2 separate regions of the Homo sapiens genome follow, and region 1 is linked to region 2. The links come from fine-mapping of genetic effects on plasma protein levels. Region 2 holds a variant in brackets. A gene starts in the other region. All regions are shown on their reverse strands.

Region 1 (5,387 bases), not on the chromosome of region 2:
CCTAAAGACCTTCTAGTGGAACAAGAGTGAGGAGGAAGACAGTGATACTGATGATCCTGACCCTCCGTAGGCCGAGGTTAATGTGTGTGTTTGTGTCTGCTTTTAACAAAAAGGTGTAGAAGGTAAATAAATAAATAATTTAAAAGATAAAAATCTTACAGAATAAGGATAGAAAGAAAAAATATTTTGTACATCTATACAAGGTGTGTTTTAAGCTAAAACAAAAGAGTTACAAGTTAAAAGATTTTCAGTTGATAAAGTAGAAAGCTTATCATAAATTAATTTATTATTGAAGAAAAGTTTTAAAAATAAATTTAGTCTATCCTGGGTGCACCAGAAGCTCAGTAATTAGCACTAAAGAACTTATCCATGTAACCAAAAACCACCTGCTCCCCCCAAAATATTGAAATAAATATATAAATAAAATAAATTTACCTAGCTCAAGTATTCAGTGTTCATGAAGTTTACAGTAGTGTATGGTAATGTGCTAAGCCTTCATATTTGCACACCACTCACTCAGTGACTTACCCAGAACAACTTTCAGTCCTGCAAACCCTATTGACGGTAAGAGCCCTATACAAGTCTGCCATTCTTAATATTTTATATTGTATTTTTATTGTACCTTTTATATGTTTAGGTAAACACATTCTTACATTTGTGCTACAGTTGCCCACAGTATTCAGTACAGTAACATGCTGTACAGGTTTGCAGTCTAGGAGTGACAGGCCGTATAGCTTAGTTAGGTAGTAGGCTATACAATCTAGGTTTGTGTAAGTACACTCTATGATGTTTGCAGGAGGACGAAATTGCCTATAGACACACTTCTCAGAACGTTTTCCTATCATTAAGTGATGTATGAGTGTACACACACACACACACACACACACACACACAGACAATTACCTATATATAAAACCTTGCAATTTATTTGCCTATTTACATTTTGCTTTTCTTTTAGGACACTCTAAGTAGTAGTGAGGGGTGGGTGGCGTTGTCATATTCTTTCCAGCTTCTTTGCTACAGCATGAAGCACAATATATTGCTTGATTCATGTTTTGCTACTGGAAGCATGCAGTTTTCTATTTGTACAAAAGTGTTGCTTTCGTCTGTTATTTCTGCTGTTTGGCCAGTTTCTAAATAGACACCAAAACAAAAGTGTAATGCACACTTACAGGTCATTTAACACCTAGACAACTTTTAATAGAATTTCACTAAAGTTTATCCTGGGACTGGACTGAAGCTTGAAAGTTTTGTGGGGTTAGGAATTGTCAAAATTCTACATATTATCCTCATAATTTTCACTTATCTTCCTCTGCTTCCACCCCCCTTTAGAAATCCTTGTGTAATGCCATTTGTAACAGATGTTTAAGCCACTTAATAAATATCATAAACACAGACTTAAGAAAAATCAAATACACTCATGCAATCGCACTCTTGTGATTATAGCTCAGTACTAAAAGTGAAAACAAAATAAAATGAATTTTAGGCCCATAGAAATAATGTTTTGCAACATTTGTAAGGGCATATCTTAAAAAGAAAGCATTTTATGGTTCATATTTTTCTCTTATGTCAGGACTGAGAAGAAAGTGTTCAAAAAATTTAAAGATCTGTAAACATTAGAAAGCAGTAAAGCAGTAAAATAAAAACTTTCTGGAAATCAAAGAGTATATAGCACAATGATTGAAACTTCACGTACACACATAGTTTAATCAGTATCCTAGACCTTGTTAGAGATTTTGTTTGCAATCCTTTTGATATAGTGGCTTTAATTTCCACATGAAATAAAATGGGATAGTTTATAATGTTATAAGAATCAGTTTATAGTATTAATAAAGAAGTGATATATTATTTCACTTTTGAAATTTGTGGAAGAGCTCAGAAGAAACAATTTTTTGGCAGTTCACTGGTTTATATATAAAAATAATATTTTCTATTGTTTCATTAAAATATATTTCCCTGTTGAATGATAATTAGGCTGAAATGAGAATTCCTTCATTTTAATAACATTTAAAATGTAAATTATCAAATCTATGAAAATAAAATTCTCAAAACATAATGAAGGTGGCCAAATCTTTTGGGGTTGATTTTTCTAGTCAGTGGCATTGCAGAGTTTATGCAGAATTACACTAATATTTCACCTTGTCATCTTTATTATAGCAGATTTTCTCTCCTTTGATTTCTCTTTACATTATCTATTTGGTGACCATTTACCCTTAGCAAACTAGAGAACGGAGAGAATTAATTTCATTCAATTTTCCTGCTAATTGCATGTTGGAAAATATTTCCAGAAAATAGATGAATATTGTGATACCCCTTCAAATTATCCTCAGCTATTTATTCATTTAAAAATATTTGTATGCATACACACACACAATCAATAAATACATTTGAAAAGGAACTAAAATATTCGGATCTGTTTTCAACTTACCTTCTCCCCCAACAGTGGATACCCATGAGATTAGGATTACACTGAATAAGAGCAACATGCTTGGTAGTCTCAATCGTATATAACTAAAAATACTCCAGTGATGGTGGTGTTGCTTTAAATCTGCTTTCATTAACAGTTACAAGCATGACTTTGAATTTCAATGTACTAAGGGGAAGCTAGTTTAGTAAAGCCCTTTGTGGAAAACATCAAAGTTCATGGAGGGTTGTGTGAAATAAGCAAATAGTATCTAATCAGTGTCTTCACAATAATATTCTCAGCTCGTTATGTAATATTTATTTAAGCAAAATAACTGCTGTTCAATTTCCTTGTTGTAGTCACCGAGTCTCTGAGTTTGGAACAATCAGAAATGGACTGTTTAGAGGAGAGAGGAAGCTCCCCACCGCCGGCCCCCTGGGTTTTTTTTTTTTTTCTAGCCAAGGGTTCAGCTGTTTCAAAAGGCAAGCAAGTGCAAGTCATCAGTCCTCATCTTAATACAACAATATCACTTTTGTAGTTGTAAATTCCCTTTTAAAACTGGCACTAAGAATTAGGTACCTTCTTAACAGTTTTAATATTTCATAAACTATAAAAGGTCTAATCAAGAATTATTTTTGCTGGCCGGGCGCAATGGCTCAAGCCTGTAATCCCAGCACTTTGGGAGGCCGAGGCGGGTGGATCACAAGGTCAGGAGATCGAGACCATCCTGGCTAACACGGTGAAACCCGTCTCTACTGAAAAATACAAAAAAAATTTAGCCAGGCGTGGTGGCGGGCGCCTGTAGTCCCAGCTACTCGGGAGGCTGAGGCAGGAGAATGGCGTAAAACCGGGAGGCAGAGCTTGCCGTGAGTGGAGATCGCGCCACTGCACTCCAGCCTGGGCGACAGAGCGAGACTCTGTCTCAAAAAAAAAAAAAAAAAAAAAAAGAATAATTTTTGCCAAGTAACGTTTCCTGAAATGTTTGAAGAACAGAATTATAATTCAAAATCATTTTGTTCAGGTGGGACTTCGAGAATGGCTATGTGAGGGTCTTGGTATATTCACTCCCAACCAAAAGGCAGCAATAAAACTGGATAAAAATTTAAAAGTAACCATTGGTTGTCTCTGGAAATTGGCCAAACAGCATAATGTTGGGAAATATTTTTTCCAGAAAGTCTCCATAAAATTCAGTAAAAGAGAGCGGATGCTTTCATCCACCTCTGTCTCGCAGCCCAATTCCGTGGCTCAGAAGTTGAACCCTGGATGGGCAGGCAGGCTATGTGGACTGGAAGCTCTGCTCCCCTGCTGGAGAAGAGTGACTTTATAGCTTGGAAAGGTCCATGCCCGAGGATCCTATTGAATACAAAGAGATTACAGTGGGAAACAATCAGAGAAGACTAGAGGATACTAGCTGAAGCAAGCAACAAAGTGCCCAGCCTGAGAGAAATTTAACATTTAATGGGGAAATTTACAGAAACAGCCTAATGATCTCACTAAGAGGAAACTTACTTATGGTGGTTCAGAAGTCAATGGGAATGCACATAGCTATGTCCAATCAAGAAACCAGAGAAGTCCCTGTGAGCTATTAGTAGTCTCCACTATTGATTCTAGTCTATCTAAACCTTGTCATTTCCAATTACTACACTACCTAAAGTATCTAAATATTAAGCATCACACTCTAGACCATTTCAACAATCTTTTTAGCTCACTTACTCTACTAAATTTGTTCCAAACATTCAATGACCCTGACACTTTTTCACTATTCTCTTCCCTTCATTTTCTCTCTTCCCACCACATCTAAATTAGATTCCATGGCTCATCACTGTCAGTCAGTCCCTTGCACACACTCTCCTGCCCATTCGTTCCTTTCTATCTGTAATCCAAGTCTTAGAAAACCTCAATCCTTTGCAAATAAATTCTCTACCTGCCCTGTGCCTGAATTGAAGCAGCAGAGTGTGTCTACAAGAAAAACAAAGGCAACTGTGCTGACTTGCCTTGCTTTAAATTAATGAACACGGTCCTAAATAATTTCCACACTGCTTTTCCCCTCTCCTGTTTTCATTATCTCCCTCCTTAACCACCAATCCTCACTTTGTGCTTTGCTAATGACTTCATTTATTTTTTCATCTAGATATAGAATCAATCAGAAGAAAACTACCTGCTGTTCACACGCATCCTTTTCTGCATTGTCTCTTGCTTCACTGGATGTTGATCTTTACTCCTATCTTGTTATGGTCTCTACCAGATTTGATCCCATCTTTTCTGTGCAAGGATTTTGCTCTTTCAATTATTCCTTCTCACCTGTATCATTAATTTCTCCATTTTCCAAATTATTTCCACCAATATGCAAACATACCAAACATCTTTCATCATGAAGAGCAACAACAAAAGCTCAAAAATTGTTCATAGAACCCAAATCTCTTTCTAGTAATCTAATTCACTTCTCATTTTATAATACGATGACTCCAATGTTATCTACAATCTCTACTTTAATTCATTTTTTCATTCCCAACACTACGCTTAAACCCCTCTTGTAACAGTCACCAATGCCTTCTTCAATCTAATCAAATCCATTGGTCAAAACTGAATACTCAGAAAAATTTCATGACTTTCCCCTTCCATTTGGAAATACCTGCTTCACATGGTCTATGGAACACCACATTCTCCTGGTTTCTCTTCTGTCTCAAAGGCTTCACCATCTCAGTCTTTTGTTGGCTTCTTCTAATCTCTGTGACCTTTAAACATTGGTTTGTCTGAATCCAGGGGATGTTATTTATTTGTAAGCACAGAGTTAATTTTCACAGAGCTAGTGCCGATTTTTAGTTGAATTAACACTATCTTCTCTTGTCTATTTTTTTTGAAGCCCAGTACTCAACAATTATTCTCCTTTTTATTTGCTGAATATTTCTCCTAATTCAGAAACTTAGATTGCCCTTTTTTGTTTGTTTCTTGTTCTGAGTAATTTCAGGAGATTATGCCCTCC
Region 2 (5,387 bases):
GTTTTGTGGGAGCACGGAAGAGGAACACCCCATTCAGGCTTGGGAGTGGGGTCAGAGGAGGAAGATGGAGGAAGAGGAACGGTGAGAAGCCCCAAAGTAAGAGAAAGCGTGGGCGGGGAATTCAGGCAATTATAAGTAAGTCACAGAACTAAACTGTAACATTCAAAGGGAAAAGCAAGGGGAGCAGCCTACAGGGCGAGGGGGGCTCCGGCCTCCACACTCACATCCCTTTACCTTATCAAGGGCCTCAGGCTTGGGGCAGAGTTGGGGACTCCAGAACTTCCTGCAGGGGAGGCTTGAGGTGGCATTCTGGCGGGAAGGACTAGCAACTTTTCAATTTGCATTTTCCTCCTTACATTGTATACTTTTTGGAGGAAGGGAAGTTGGAGAGCTGATTTTAATTATAGGGTCCTATACCCAGAAAAACAACTCTAGCCAAAGAATATCTCTGTTGAGTGTTGCATGTAACACGGTGGCTGGGCCCTCGGAAGCTCCGCCCCAAATGTTGGTCACTTAAACCAGCTTCCTTTTCTGAGGCCAGGGGCTTTCACAGGGAAGGTAGAAGCATTCAGACCATGGGATTTTGCAGTGCGTCAGAATTCCTGGAGAGACTGGCCTACAAACCTCTCTGTGCTCAGTAACAGGAACGGGTGATCAACCTGTGGTCTCTTACAAAGGATTGCAACATTGGCAAAAGGAGGCTGTGCCCAGCAAACAACAACCCAAAGTCTGGGGTTGCCTCAGGCCTAAAACTGTCTCAGATGGCTGAGTTTCAGGGGTGGGGCCAAGGCCATGAACTTACACCTAAGGAGGACCTGTTTGTCTCGTTCTGTTGTAAAAACAGGGTGCACATCTAACCCAGACTGGCCTCTTTGCCTCTGCAAGTAAGGGACCTGACTGATAGAGGATGGTTTTTGTGTGTGCACACGAAGCCTAGCATGCAATAGAGGTTATCATGTGAGGCATTTAATGGCTGGGTCCTCACCTGTGTGAGTGTAAAGGAAAGACTGAATGGAAAGAACAGTTGAGCTGCAATGCAGTCATAATGCAAGCCTCAGTCCATTCGCCAGGAGGTAGGGTGGCACTGGCAAGGGAGCCAGGCCTTTATATACCCACACTGAGCAGTCATTGGATGCGGGCTTCACCTGGGGAAAGAATGTGACCTCTTGAGCTATGGGCCATTCTCATGGATAGTCGTGGGGTTGTGAATCTAGGCGGTGTACTACAGTATCCATGCCATTATGTGAACTATCTCAATGAAATTCCACAACAGTATTCAGAATATATTATTATCTTCATTTTACAGACAAATAAACTGAGGCACAGAGCTGTGTGACTCTGAGCCACTTGGCCACCGTAGTGCCTTCTCCATAAATAAACACTAGATATGTAGTCAGGAAATGCCAGTTCAGCAAATCTTAACTTCTCATTTACCCACACACTGTCCCCTAGACAAGTCTTTCAACCTTTTTGAGATTCAGTTTTCCCAGATTTAAAATGAGGATTATAATGCTTGACCTACCTTTTACTTGTCTCATAGAATTGCTGCCAAGATCAATTCAAAACAAGCCCTTATATGCGAATGTGCTTTGTGAACTGCTAATTCCTAGACAAATGTAAGAAACAATGCTTATTACACGTGAAAGGCAGTATGTGGTCAAACAGATGGCAGTGTAGGACCTCTCCAAAACCTCTAAGCCTTTTGGTTACTCCAACTGGCAGAGGCCAAATGCAAACATTTCCATTTGATAAATGGAGAGACAGAAGTAAGTATCAGGGAAGTTGGTAGGCATAACTCATTCCAGAAATTAGTTCTTGGGATCCATGTCCAACACATCGATTTAGTATGGCTCTGATGACACAATGGAAACCAGAGGCAGCCTACCCAAGAGGATATGGACACCCACAGTGGGATAGAAAGGAGTTAACATTTGTTAAACACCCACCTGTGCCAGGCACTATGCCAGGTGCTTTATATAGGTTGCGTTTTTATCCCTTTAAGAATCATAGGCACTTTACCATTGACAAGTCAAAGGTTCAAAGAGAAGGAGTAGTGGTAACTTTTTAAGGATGCAGAGCTAAGAAAGAGCAGTGTCTGGCTTTCTTCAGCACACCTAATTATCTTTGCGCAAGGTGAGGATCCTGCTCCAATGCCTCGGGAGTCATAATTGAGGGGGCACTGGGAGCTACAGAGGCTGGCCAGCATTGAAATCTGTTTCTACCCAGGAATTCAAACTGTGTGAGAGGTGAATGTCTTTGTCTCTTGCAGCAAAACGTACCTCTTTAATTTTGGGATGATCCAAGAACCTGATGTGATTGATCAGAGAAATTTGCAAAACTAGGATAGCTTGGAAAGCTAGGATAGCAAGCCCACAGCACAGAAAAAAAGCTTCTGTGAGGAACAAGGGGCACCAAGAAGAAATATTCCCATAAACCCCAGAATGACAATGGTTTCCTCAAAGGCTTCAGAGTAGGACCTGGGATTTGAGTGTTGGCACTACTGCCGGACCAGAACAGGATTGTGTTTGCCTGTGTACGTGTGCATGTGTGTGAGTGTTCATGCAGTGAATGACATGGAGTCAGATATACCATGGGGACTTTTTTTTCATCTGCAACCACATAAGTCTCCATCCAGATCTATCTAAACACGTTTTGAAGGTGACTGTGGTCCTTTGGTAAAGGCACACCAGTTCTCATCCTGATGGATAATGTGAAGTAGGTCTCCAGGTGAGGTGTGAGGATCAATCAGCAGGAAGCAGAGTCAAGAAGAAACCAAGGCATGGCCCAAATCTTTTTCTCTATGGGGAAATTTCCCCATCTGTAAAATGGGGATGAAGACAGCACCTTGGTCATATGGGTAAAGTTTGTAGTAGGACAATGCAAATATGGTAAGTGCATGTCAGCTGATAGCCATGGCTCTTCCAAAATTTTATATATGCTGAGGTTTTTTTTTTTTTTGCAGTCATAATAGTTTAGAAGTGTCATACATTTGTTGAGAATTAAGTGCTTC[A/G]TCACTATGTTGTGCCTTTCCCCCTTCCTGTTAGTGTTTTCTCAGTGAAATTCTGCTCTGATATAAAAGGGTGAACCCAGCTCTCTTCTAGTTAGTTTGACTGTGTTCTTCCATCCCTTTACTTTCAACTTTTCTGTGTTTAATATTTTAGGACTGTGTCCTGGAAATATCATTGCCAGATTTTAAAATCCAATCTGACAATATGTCTTTCAACTAGGAAGTTTAGTTCATTTTCATTTTTTGTAATCTTTAATGTATTTGGATTTGTTTTACTATCTTAATTTTTTTTTTTTTTTTTTTAGATGGCGTTTCGCTCTTGCTGCCCAGGCTGGAATGCAATGGCACAATCTCTGCTCACCACAACCTCTGCCTCCTGGGTTCAAGCGATTCTCCTGCCTCAGCCTCCAGAGTAGCTGGGATTACAGGCATGCACCCCCACACCCAGCTAATTTTGAATTTTTAGTAGAGATGGGGTTTCCCCATGTTGGTCAGGCTGGTCTCGAACTCCTGACCTCAGGTGATCCACCCATCTTGGCCTCTCAAAGTGCTGGGATTACGGGCATGACTTAATTTTTTATTTTATTTTAGCCCCTTTTCAATGCTTCTTTTTCTCTCTCACCTTATTATTTATTTTGGGTGGGGTGTTGGTGGTTGCTATTGTTTTCTTATTCCATTCCCCTTCCCATATTGATTTAGAAGTTATATACTCTGTTTCTCTTGTTTTAGTGGTTACTATTAAATTTTTGTCATGACTATTTTACTTCTCAGGGTCTAAAATTAATAAATATCTAACCCCCTACCCAAAAAAATATGATTTATGAGTATTTTTAACCTTGATCATCTCCCTCTCAACTTATAGGCTTAACATTTTAATTTGTCTTAACATTTTAGTTCTGCCCTTTTTCTAACCCCACATTTCGACTTATTTTTCAAAGATTTGTTTAGATTATTCTACGTTTCCTGTTTTCTTCCTCACCATTTTTTACTGACATCCAAGGTCCCCTGTGGTAAGCAGAATAATGCCCCTACTCCACCACCCGCAATTCCCACATCCTATTATTCCCTTGGGCCTGTGACTATGTTAGGTTACATGGCAAAAAAGAAATTAAGGTTACAGATGGAATTGAGGTTGCTAATCAGCTAACCTTAAAATAAAGAGATTATCCTGGATTATTTAGGTGGACCCAATCTAATCACAAGGGTCCTTAAAAGTAGAGAAAGGAGGCAGAAGAGGTCAGAGTGATAAGATAAGAGAAGGGAAGGGGAACATCGCACACTGGGGACTGTTGTGGGGTGGGGGAGGGGGGACGGATAGCATTAGGAGATATACCTAATGCTAAATGATGAGTTAATGGGTGCAGCACACCAATGTGGCACATGTATACATATGTAACAAACCTGCACGTTGTGCACATGTACCCTAAAACTTAAAGTATAATAATAATAAAAAAAATTTATAACCCCCCCCAAAAAAAAAAGATAAGAGAAGGACTCGACTGCCACTGTTAGCTTTGAAGATGTGGGAAGAAGCCACTAGCTAAGGAATGCAAATGCCTCTAGAAATTAGAGAAACATCATCTCCAGAGCCTCCAGCAGCCCTGCTGATACCCTGATTTTAGCCCAGTAAGACTTCTGACCAGAAATCAGGAGGTTAAATTTCTGACCTACAGAACTGAAAGATAATTTCGTGTTTTTTAAAGCCACTAAGTTTGCAGTAATTTCTTAGAGCAACTAATAAGAAACTAATATACCAGACTTTAGGGATCATTTTTCTTCCTTTTGAAACATCCTTAGATATTCTTATCAGTTGTAACAACACAAAAGAATAAATGCTTGAGGTGATGAATACACCCAAAAAAAATTTTAAAAAGAAACATCCTTACATATTCGTTTAGGAAGTAATCTCATTCACTGTTTATCCAGAAATGTCTTTATGGTGTACTTCTTGAAAGATTGGTTTGGTTTGGTTTGGTTTGGTTTTGAGGCAGTCTCACTCTGTCACCCAGACTGGAGTGCAGCAGCATGATCTCAGCTCACTGCAACCTCTACCTCCTGGGTTCAAGCGATTCTCCTGCCTCAGCCTCCCAAGTAGCTGGGATTACAGGTGCACACCACCACACATGGCTATTTTTTTTTTTTTTTGTATTTTTAGTAGAGATGGGGTTTCACCATGTTGGCCAGGACGGTCTCAAACTCCTGACCTCAAGTGATCCACGTTCCTTGGCTTCCCAAAGTGCTAGGATTATAGGCGTGAGCCACCACGCCTGGCCAAAAGATATTTTTGATAGGTACACAATTTTATATTAACAGTTAGTTTTTCTCTCACCATTTTCAAGATGTCTTTCAACTGTCTCCTTGCTTTCGTTGTTGTTGAGAA

Direction of the effects. Alleles are on the strand shown, and positions count from the first base shown. The strength of an association depends on the size of the effect and on how common the allele is.
As copies of A replace G in region 2, the plasma level of the protein whose gene starts at base 2,595 in region 1 goes down (weak association).

The links. PIP is the chance, under the fine-mapping model, that this variant and not a neighbour inherited with it causes the effect. Protein levels are from antibody-based Olink assays in UK Biobank. Linkage for the fine-mapping came from a reference panel and not from the study's own genotypes, which makes the PIPs less certain.
Region 1: CFHR5 starts here. The variant in region 2 is fine-mapped to the plasma level of the CFHR5 protein (UK Biobank, PIP 0.97).

Annotation. Positions count from the first base shown.
Region 1 is chr1:196,974,764-196,980,150 of GRCh38, reverse strand. CFHR5 (complement factor H related 5) reads right to left here and starts at 2,595. Exons shown (of 10, transcript NM_030787.4): 1 at 2,429-2,595. The coding sequence starts at 2,486.
Region 2 is chr2:113,107,335-113,112,721 of GRCh38, reverse strand. It overlaps a transcript of IL1RN not described here. Among named protein-coding and RNA genes, the nearest start is that of IL1RN, 18 kb to the left of the region's middle. The variant A/G (reference allele first, on the strand shown) is at 3,011.